Homo sapiens: one gene and its partners. The protein of the gene in region 1 purifies or fractionates together with the protein of each later gene. This does not show direct contact. Each region holds a gene or a part of one and is shown on either strand. Other genes may lie near its edges.

Region 1 (3,604 bases):
ACCCCAGAAGCCACCCCCGAGGCCCGGCCTACCCATCATGTCCAGGATGCTCTGGTGGTTGGAGACGATGACACAGGGACGGGCCTCCTGCAGCCTGCGCGGGTCCCGCACCTCGAAGCGGAGCCCGTAAAAGTACTTGAAGCTTCGCACGAACCAGCCGATGATGCTGCAGGGGAGGCCACCATGAACACGGGTCCCACAGATCCCGCAGCCGAGGCTGGGGCGCGAAGGCCTGGGGGTGGGGTGTGGAGGAGGCTGGGGAGGGGCCCTCCTGGCACGGGGCAGGAGACCGGGAGACACAGGGGAGGGAGCCCCTGAAGCGGACAGAGTCCCGGGCCCGGCTCACCCACCTGGACGGCTGCCCTGCCTCCGTCTCCCCAGCAACAGAGGAAAACCCAGAGCCTCTGGAACTCGGATGCTAGGAGCATGGGAAGGCGCCCACTTCCAAATCCACATCCAGGGCCCACCCAGCCCTCATCCACCCCACAGGGGACCCAGCCGGAAAGGAACTGGCACTGGCTCTCACGTCCGCTATGAAGGACCCACGTCGGGGAGAGCAGCCTCTGCACCCCAGCAGAGGAAATGGGGCCCCACACACCCTGGGGAAGGTCACTGGCCCCTCAAGGCAGGGCCACATCAGGAAGAAAGTGTCGGCGCCAGTGGAGACCTCTGAAACGACCTCCGAAAGGTTCTTCCAGAAAAGAGCCGAGACCGAGACCCTCTCTCACCCCTACCCTACAGAATCAGGCCGGTTCCCTTTCCCCGTGAAGAGGCGGCGAGGGGCTCGGGGCTTGTCTGAGGTCACACCAGGAGCAGCAGCAGAGCCAGGGTCTGGGCCACCTGAGCCCTGGCCACAGCAGCCCCCACTCTGGCAGGGGCCCAGCCCACTGGGGGCTGCCCTTGGAGCACCTGCAAATGTGAGGTGGCCTTGTCCAAGCAGCCCGTCATGGTTGGGACCAGGGATGTCCAAGGGGTACCCGAAGACTCTGACCAGCTCCGAGCGTCCCAACCTCTGCCCTGCTGTGCTGCCAGGAAGCTCTGGGCACACCCCAGATAGGGCACCCCATCACAGGGCAGCCGGCGGGGATGGAGCCAGGAGGACGGAGCTCCACTCCGAAGCTCCAGCAGGGGTGGATGGCCGGGGCAAGGCTGTGCCAGCGCTGACTGGGGGGCTGCCAGTGCTGCTCCCCTCTCCATGCAGACTAGTGCCCCCCACCATTTGATCCCCCAGCAGTCCTAAGGGCCCCACACTTTCTACAGATGAGTCTGAGTAACTGCCCCAGGCCACAGAGCAGAGATTCAAAGCCGGGGCCTTCTCTCAAAGCCATACTGGTGGGGATTTTTGTTGTTTTAACAGGGTCTTGCTCTGTCACCCAGGCTCCCCTTGCTCTGTCTTGCTCTGTGACACAATGTGTCACATTGTGCAGTGTCACAATCTGGGCTCACTCCAGCCTCCACCTCCTGGGCTCCTCCCACCTCAGGCTCCTGACTAGCTGGGACCACAGACGTGAGCCACCACACCTCGCTAGTTTTTGTATTTTTGGTACAGATGGGCTTTCACCATCTCTGGCCAGGCTGGTCTCGAACTCCTAGGCTCAAACAACCTGCCGACCTCGGCCTCCCAAAGTGCTGGGCTTACAGGCCTGAGCCAACTCGCCCGGCCTTTAAAAAAAAATTGTGGTAAAATACACGTAACATAAAATGTATCTCCTTGGCCTTTTCCGGGTGCACAGTTCATGGGCGCTGGGCACATTCGGTGTCTAGCAGCCATCTCCTCCCTCTATCTCCAGAACTCTCCACCTTCTCTGGCTGACGTCTGTTCCCATGCGACACAAACCCCTGTCCCCTCCCCAGCCCTGGCACTCTGCCCTTCCATGTGTGAGCCCAGGCCTGCGGCAGCACCACCTCAGGCTGATGGGGCAATGCTCATGACCCCCTGTTGCAGATGGGGAAACTGAGTCAAGGGGGGCCTAATGGTTAATTCTGGTGATGAGTCCAGCCGTCCGTCCCTGGACTTGGAAGCCTGGGGCCTCCTCAGATCTGCCTTCCTCAGCCAACTCTAGATATCTCCTCTCCAGGCCGCGCCGGCCACCGTCCCCTCCCACCCAGAAGGCACACCCGGGCTGGTAGCACCCGCACACTCAGGGGAACTGCAGGGCTGTTTTGCCTCCACACTCATTTGCGCAATCCAGCTTCCCGGACCCCTGTGACGCTCCAAGAAGACGAGGAGGCAAAAGCCGGCAGTTCACCAACAGGAAACACAGAACTGTCTGGTGCTAGCAAGACGGCCGTGTCGCCAATCAAAGAAGCGCAAATGGAAACAAGAGACTGTCCTCATCCTTCCCCCTGGCACAGATTAAAACGCCTGATAACAGGAGGTGCCAGCCAGGGTGTTGGGAACAGGCCCAGCGGCTGGCAGGAGTGAGGAGTCGCACAGACAAGATACTTCTGTGGAGGGCAGGTTGGCAGGCCCGGCCAGAGCCCTGAGGAAACCTGGCCCCTCCCCTCTCAGAATCTTCCAGGAATTCGCCCGACGGCTGGAGTGAGAAGCCTGTGGTGCTGAAGTGTGCAGTGAATTAGGAAAACCTGAAAATGCTTAAATAGCCACCAGTAGAAAGAGGGAAAGTAAATTAGGGTCCATTTCACAGACAGCTGGGGCGCGGGGAAAGAACAGGACAGGTCCACACTCATCTCCTGTGAAGGACATGTGTATGATTTCTAGCAGCAGCCAAGACACACCTGCAATTCCAAAGCTAGCTGCCTGCAGGAGGCTCGGGCCACATCTGAAAGGGACATTGGTTCCCTCTGGTAGTGACATTGGCCAGTTCCATCTTTTATTTACTTTTTTATTTTTGAGACAGGGTCTCACTCTGTCACCCAGACTGGAGTGCAGTGGTGTGATCTCAGCTCACTGCAACCTCTGCCTCCCGGGTTCAAGCAATTCTCCTGCCTCAGCCTCCTGAGTAGCTGGGATTACAGGTGCCTGCCACCAGGCCTGGCTAGTTTTTGTATTTTTAGTAGAGACGGGGTTTCACCATGTTGGCCAGGCTGGTCTCGAACTCCTGACCTCAGGTGATCCTCCCACCTCGGCCTCCCAAAGTGCTGGGATTACAGGTGTGAGCCACCGCGCCCGGCCAGCTAGTTTCTTAGTGTTAACAACTGCATCTTGGTGATGTAAGATGTTAACAAGGGAGGAAACTGGTGAGGGCCACATGGGGTCCCCCGTAATATCTTTGCAACTTCTCTGTAAATCTGAAATTATTAAAAAATAAGATCTTCATTTATTTTTTATTTTTTTTGAGACGGAGTCTTGCTGTCACCTAGGCTGGAGTGCAGTGGCGAGATCTCAGCTCACTGCCATTTCCACCTCCCGGCAAGCGATTCTCCTGCCTCAGCCTAGCAAGTAGTTGGGACTACTGGTGTGCGCCACCACACCCGGCTAATTTTTGTATTTTTAGTAGAGACGGGGTTTCACCATGTCGGCCAGGCTGGTCTCAAACTCCTGACCTCATGATCCGCCCGCCTCGGCCTCCCAAAGTGCTGGGATGACAGGAAGGAGCCAGCGCGCCGAGCCCTCCTCTGTTTTGATTGTGGTATAACACGC
Region 2 (3,604 bases), on another chromosome or scaffold:
CAGGCTGGTCTTGAACTCCTGGGCTCAAGCAATCTGCCTTCTTCGATCTCCCAAAGTGCTGTGATTACAGGTGTGAGCCACTGTACCTGGCCAAGATAAGGCTTTTTACATTTAAAACATAGGGATAATATGAAACACTTTTATGGTATGTACCACGTGCCAGGCACTGTTCTAAGTGCTGTCCACATCGACTTATTTATTCTCAAAACAACTTTAAGGCCATGGGTACTATTATTATTCCCTTTTACAAAGGAGGAAACTGAGGCACAGAGGTTCAATGCTTCACTCAGGGTCACTGAGCAATAGGTGGCTATCTGGTGGCTGAGCTGGGATTTGAGCCCAGGCTAGCAGGCTCCAGAGTCCCTGCCCTTAATCATGGTGGCTACAAAGGATAATCTTTTAAATTAAATACATTCATCTTTATATAAAACTTTATAAAACATTTTCCAATTTGCCGTAAACTGTTTCAAATGTCTTAACAGACCAGTGTGTTTGGGGCATCACCATTCTAATCAATAAGACACAGGCTTTCCATTTTATTTCCTTCCCGCAGAGACGTCTCCTTCCAAGGCCATGACATCTAAAGCCCTGGTGAGGCTGAGCACCGCTCATGTGTAGATATAAAATGACCCTAACAGCATCCAGACAGCACCTCCGACCTCTTCAGCAGGAACTCACACAGCCCCTCTCCCCTTTCTTTTTTTTTTTTTTTTTTTTTTTTTTTTGAGACGGAGTCTCGCTCTGTCGCCCAGGCCGGACTGCGGACTGCAGTGGCGCAATCTCGGCTCACTGCAAGCTCCGCTTCCCGGGTTCACGCCATTCTCCTGCCTCAGCCTCCCGAGTAGCTGGGACTACAGGCGCCCGCCACCGCGCCCGGCTAATTTTTTGTATTTTTTTTTTTAGTAGAGACGGGGTTTCACCTTGTTAGCCAGGATGGTCTCGATCTCCTGACCTCATGATCCACCCGCCTCGGCCTCCCAAAGTGCTGGGATTACAGGCGTGAGCCACCGCGCCCGGCCCCCCTCTCCCCTTTCTAGTCCCACTCTGTGTAGCCACTTTCTCCTCCAACTTGTACATGAGGCCTCATGGAACCTGCTTTTTCTCCCTTTTGCAACTGGGCATGCCTTTACCTTGGGAGATGGAGCTTCAGCAGGGCTCCAAGTCCTGCTGCTGATGGAGGCATCATCTAACCCCATCTTCACACTGTGCACTGATGCGCGGCACCTCAACCTCCTCATCCTCTAGCCACCCCACAGTGTTGTCGTGCGAATGAATAATTTAATACTTGTGGAAATTAGCACAGAATAGCTCCTATTATCACTAGTATTATTAGTATAATAATACTCATCCTAAAACAGTCTTTTAGGACTGTTGCGCACTCTATTTTCACTTTGGTTTTACGTAAGAGATGTGGTTTCTTGGCTTGAGTATTTTACATCATATGTTTCTGGTTAGTTGTCTATTTAGCTAACTGTGATTCTCTGTTGGCTCACTATCCACAAAGAAGACATTTGCAACACAAGAGTTCTTCTCTAGGCTGGGCTTGGTGGCTCACGCCTGTAATCCCAGCACTTTGGGAGGCCAAGGCGGATAGATCACCGGAGGTCAGGAGTTCGAGGCCAGCCCAGCCAACAAGGTGAAACCCTGTCTCTACTAAAAATACAAAAAAATTAGCTGGGCAGGGGGTGCATTCCTGTAGTCCCAGCTACTCAGGAGGCTGAGGCAAGAGAATTGCTTATACCTGGGAGGCGGAGGTTGCAGTGAGCCGAGATCGTGCCACTGCATTCCAGCCTGGGTGACAAGAGTGAAACTCCTTCTCAAAAAAAAAAAAAAAAAAAAAAAAGAGTTCTTCCCTAACCCTAAATTCCATCCGAACTAAGACAGGTGGATAATCACCAGAAATCTCCACACGTACAGTTGTGGTTATTCCATTTCTATACTTTACTGTTGTGCAAAGCCCAAGTCCAGATCCAGTGTGGGCTCTGTGGAAAATCCCATCTGCATGGGGACCTGGGGCTCCCAACTGTCATTTGTCTTAACATGGGGAGGCTGTGATGGCTGACTGTCGGCCAGCCCTGCTTGCTGAGATAACCAGGCAAGGAAGGCCGTCTTCTACCTGAGCAGGGGATGGAAAGGAGACCCCCACCCACAGCACAGGGGCTGGCCCCAGAAAACGACGGGGCTGTCACCCCAGGGGCTGCTCACCGGTCTCCCCAAAGGGCAGGGCTTGCTCCCATGGCCTGAACTGTGCCGCACTCCCTCTGTGTGATGGTGGAAGAATCGTGGACCTGGTGTCAGGCTTGGGAACACTGGGTGCTGTGTGACTCTGGTCTCTCAACACTTTCTAAGGGCCTGCTTCCTCCTCTGAGTCAGGATTCGTCAGTCCTACCTCACAGGCCGGATGCGAACATGGAACAAGGCCACGTAGGTCGAGGGCCTGATGCACTAGAGGTGAGAGGAGCAGGTGTTCGGCCTCCCTGCTGCCCACCTGGCATTTATGCTTTGGAGTATGGCTGCTGCTCCTCACGGCAGAAGGTACCTGATAGTGGTGGTGTGAGTGTGTGTGTGTGTGTGTGTGTGTGAGAGAGAGAGAGTGTGTGCCTGTGACAGAGATGGCTCATTCATAGGAGCAGCCAGGCCCTGATGAAGTCCTTGCCTTTCTTTCTTTCTCTGCCCTGCTTCAGGGTTAGGAAGGAGGCCAGCAAGGGAGCTTGACCTAGGGGACCAGATGCCTGGGTGCTGTATCCCTGACGACTGTCTTTGAAGCCAGGTATCCTTCAAAATATGAGGTAAGCAAAGGATGCATGCAAGTAGAAAGGTCATGCTGCCGATGACAGAGATTACCGGTTGTGAGGAAAAACTCACCTGAAATTTATTAGTAGAGTTAAAAGGGATTTCAGCTACTTTGCGGTTTCTTTTTCTAATTTCCATCACATCACCCAAAATGACCTCTGAGAATTTTAAAAGAGCAGTTTCTGAGGCATCTCCAATCACAGCTTTCTGGGAATCAAAGAAGAAAAATATTTGCAGCACATATTTAATGAACCAACATGCCCTCAGCATAGGACCCAAAACACACCCTCCTGATCCCATTACCACCTAGCTGGAGAGACATTATCACGTGATCAGGGAGGGCCGCAAGACCGTGGTAAGCGTGTAAACAACAGTGCCACCTACTGGCATTAGGGATGTTTGGAGAAGCTGGACCTCTGCGAGGACTGAAGATTTCGTGGAAAAAAGCAGCTACGAACTAGATCTTGATAGATAGGTGGGTTACCGATACACAGAGAAGAAAGCCTTCCAGAAACCAGGATGCGGGTGCAGGGGCATGAGGGGCAGGCTCGTCCGTGAGTGTTCAAGGTACAAGCGGATGTGGAGGGTGTGGCAAGACCTGGAGGGCCCTGAAAGGTAGCCTGAGGTCTAGACTTGAGAAGCAGAAAACAGGGAAGTACGGAGAGATTTTGAGCAAAGTTAAGTGACTATAAAAGCACCATTAAGGGAAATTAGTGGCATTCGAGAAAGACCCCAGGAGGGATAAACCGGAATCAAAGAGGTTTAATTCCAATCAGCCGGTAATCGGCTATTTAGATGCAAGGTACTGCTG
Region 3 (2,752 bases), on another chromosome or scaffold:
ACTTCTCTGAAAACTTTCATGCTGGAAAGAATGTCCAACATGATTGTTTACAGATTGTCCCAAACAATGAATGCATGAATGAATGAATACGTAAGGCCTCAAAGATGGCAGAGGCCAGGTACAGTGGCTCACACCTGTAATCTCAGCACTTTGGGAGGCCAAGGTGGGCGGATCACCTGAGGTCATGAGTTTGAGACCAGCCTGGCCAACATGGCAAAATGTCGTCTGTACTAAAAATATAAAAATTAGCCAGACATGGTAGTGACCACCTGTAATCCCAGCTACTCGGGAGGCTGAGGCAGGAGAATTGCTTGAACCGGGAAGTGGAGGTTGCAGTGAGCCAAGATCACGCCATTGCACTCCAGCCTAGGTGACAGAGTGAGACTCTGTCAAAACAAACAAACAAACAAACAAACAAACAAAAAAGGGAGAAATCTGCTGACATACCTTCTTTATGCTGTCTATATATAGGAAAGTGGGCATGTATTACTTTCATAATAAAAGTTTCTTTTTAGAGACAAAAACGATATAAGAAGTCCATGGATAAAATCGGCATTTATTCAGAAGGCATGATGCCAGGAAGAAACTCCCCAAGTGGGAGACAATGGCTGGCCCCCCTGCAAGGGAAACAAGGCTTCAGCCCTTCCCTACTCCCAGACCTGCCGGGAAGGCTGGGAGCACAGTTCATGGAGGGTCTCTGGGGTGGGCCTGGGTGTCTGACCTGTCCCTCTGCCCACAGGTGAATGTGACCTGCGTCCTGAGGATCCCGAGTATCAGGAGAGCTGGCAGAGGAAGTCATGCAGAGGCAAAGCCAGGAGCCCCGACAGGGAGATCCCCAGTGTGTCAGAGATGCAGGTGGCCGCCATTGCAAACTCCCGGTGCTCATCACTGGTCTGGGAGGGCAGAGAGCAGGGGTGAGGCTTCAGTCCCAGACATCCCTGCCCTGGGTGTCCCTGGACAGGCCACCCCCAGCCCTTGCCCGGCCAATGCTGACCTCCAGGGCGATGTTGTGGAAGGTGTTCACGTAGGCTGCGCCTCCCAGGAGCCCCTCATACAGAATGATCAGGAAGACGAGGTAGATGCTTGGCAGAAAGCCGAACCACACGTCTGCCAGCAGGAACACCAGGTTGAGGCACTGTGAACAGGGGGAGAGGCTAAGCCTGGGACCAGGGCGGGGCAGGGAAGGAGAGGTGGCCTCCCCTCCAGGGGTCCCTGGTTTTAGGAGTTACTGGTGAAGGAGAGGGCTGCCAGGTCTAGATAAAATCTCAACACCAGCCCGGTGTGGTGGCTCACACCTGTAATCCCAGCACTTTGGGAGGCTGAGGTGGGCAGATCACCTGAGGTCAGGATTTCGAGACCAGCCTGGCCTGGTCTCTACTAAACATGGTAAAACCCCATCTCAACTAAAAATACAAAAATTATCTGGGTGTAGTGGTTCTGTAGTCCCAGCTACTTGGAAGGCTGAGGCAGGAGAATCACTTGAACCTGGGAGGCAGAGGCTGCAGTGAGCCAAGATCGCAGCACTGCACTCCAGCCTGGGCAACAGAGAGAGACTCCATCCCAAAAAAAAAAAAAAAAAATTCTCAACCTCAGCCTGGTGCAGTGGCTCATGCAGGTAATACCAGCACATTGGGAGACCAAGGTGGGATGATCACTTGAGGCCAGGAGTTCGAGACCAGCCTGGGCAACATAACAAAACTCCGTCTCTACAAAAAATTTAAAAATTAGTTGAGCATGGTGGCACGCACCTGCAGTCCCAGCTACTCGGGAGTCTGAGACAGGAGGATTGCTTGAACCTAGGAGGTGGAGGCTGCAGTAAGCTATGATTGTGCCACTGCACTCCAGCCTGGGTGACAGAGCAAGATCCTGTCTCATAAAAAAAAAAAAAAAAAAAAAAAAAAAAATGGAGGCTTCTTAAAGGAAGTGGGACCATCGAAACCAGGATTTCTCAATTGCAGCACTCTTGGCGTTTGGTGCTGGTTGTTCTGCATGGTGAGGGCTGTCCTGTATATGGCAGCGCATTTAGCAGGATCCCTGGCCTCTGCCCGCTAGATGCCCATAGCATCCCTCAGTTGTGACAACCAAAGCATGCCTGCAGACGTTGCCAAACATCCGCTGGGCAGCAAAATTGCCCCTATTGGAAAAACCGTTGGTTCACTATGGTAAAACAAGGTGGGAGTAGCCGGGCATCCTATTCAGCTGGGCTCGAACTCCTGGTCTCAAGCAGTCGCTGCCCCCCTGCCTCAGCCTCCCAAAGTGCTGGGATTATAGGCAGGAGCCACCGCACCTGGCCAGGAAGCCTCTTCGATCCCCACCCCAGGGTGTAGGTCCCACCTCTGTGCCCCAGTCTCTCAAGGAGGTGCCATCCTCCCAGCACTGACCACGCCACATTGCCTCTTGTGCAGTGTGTAGGCCTCCTCGTGGCGGTTCATACTTTTCGTATATGTAAGAATTGCCTGGGGATCTAGGTACAAATGCCCCAAGCGGGGCTTACCCTAGAGGTCCTAATTCATTAAATCTGAGGTAGACTTAAAGATGAGCATTAAAAAGGACACACCTCTAGCCAGGTGTGGTGGCTCACACCTGTAATCCCAGCACTTTGGAAGGCCAAGGCGGGTGGATCACCTGAGGTCAGGAGTTCAAGACCAGCCTGGCCAACATGGCGAAACCCCATCTCTACTAAAAAATACAAAAATTAGCCAGGTGTGGTGGCACGTGCCTGTAATCCCAGCTACGCAGGAGGCTGAGGCAG

Evidence for each region. Proteins that work in one complex are often made in the same cells at the same time.
Region 2: the proteins of AGPAT2 (region 1) and ATP12A purify together in Homo sapiens (affinity purification with mass spectrometry; one large-scale study listed by BioGRID and IntAct). This does not show direct contact.
Region 3: the proteins of AGPAT2 (region 1) and CLN3 purify together in Homo sapiens (affinity purification with mass spectrometry; one large-scale study listed by BioGRID and IntAct). This does not show direct contact.

The regions. Positions count from the first base shown.
Region 1 is NC_000009.12:136,677,391-136,680,994, forward strand, and holds part of AGPAT2 (1-acyl-sn-glycerol-3-phosphate acyltransferase beta), read right to left. Parts: intron 167-3,604; coding exon 33-166; intron 1-32. UniProt on the Homo sapiens protein: Converts 1-acyl-sn-glycerol-3-phosphate (lysophosphatidic acid or LPA) into 1,2-diacyl-sn-glycerol-3-phosphate (phosphatidic acid or PA) by incorporating an acyl moiety at the sn-2 position of the glycerol backbone.
Region 2 is NC_000013.11:24,693,840-24,697,443, reverse strand, and holds part of ATP12A (potassium-transporting ATPase alpha chain 2), read right to left. Parts: intron 3,001-3,604; coding exon 2,866-3,000; intron 1-2,865. UniProt on the Homo sapiens protein: The catalytic subunit of a H(+)/K(+) ATPase and/or Na(+)/K(+) ATPase pump which transports K(+) ions in exchange for Na(+) and/or H(+) ions across the apical membrane of epithelial cells.
Region 3 is NC_000016.10:28,476,743-28,479,494, forward strand, and holds the end of CLN3 (battenin), read right to left. Parts: intron 1,136-2,752; coding exon 995-1,135; intron 894-994; coding exon 774-893; 3' UTR 537-773; downstream 1-536.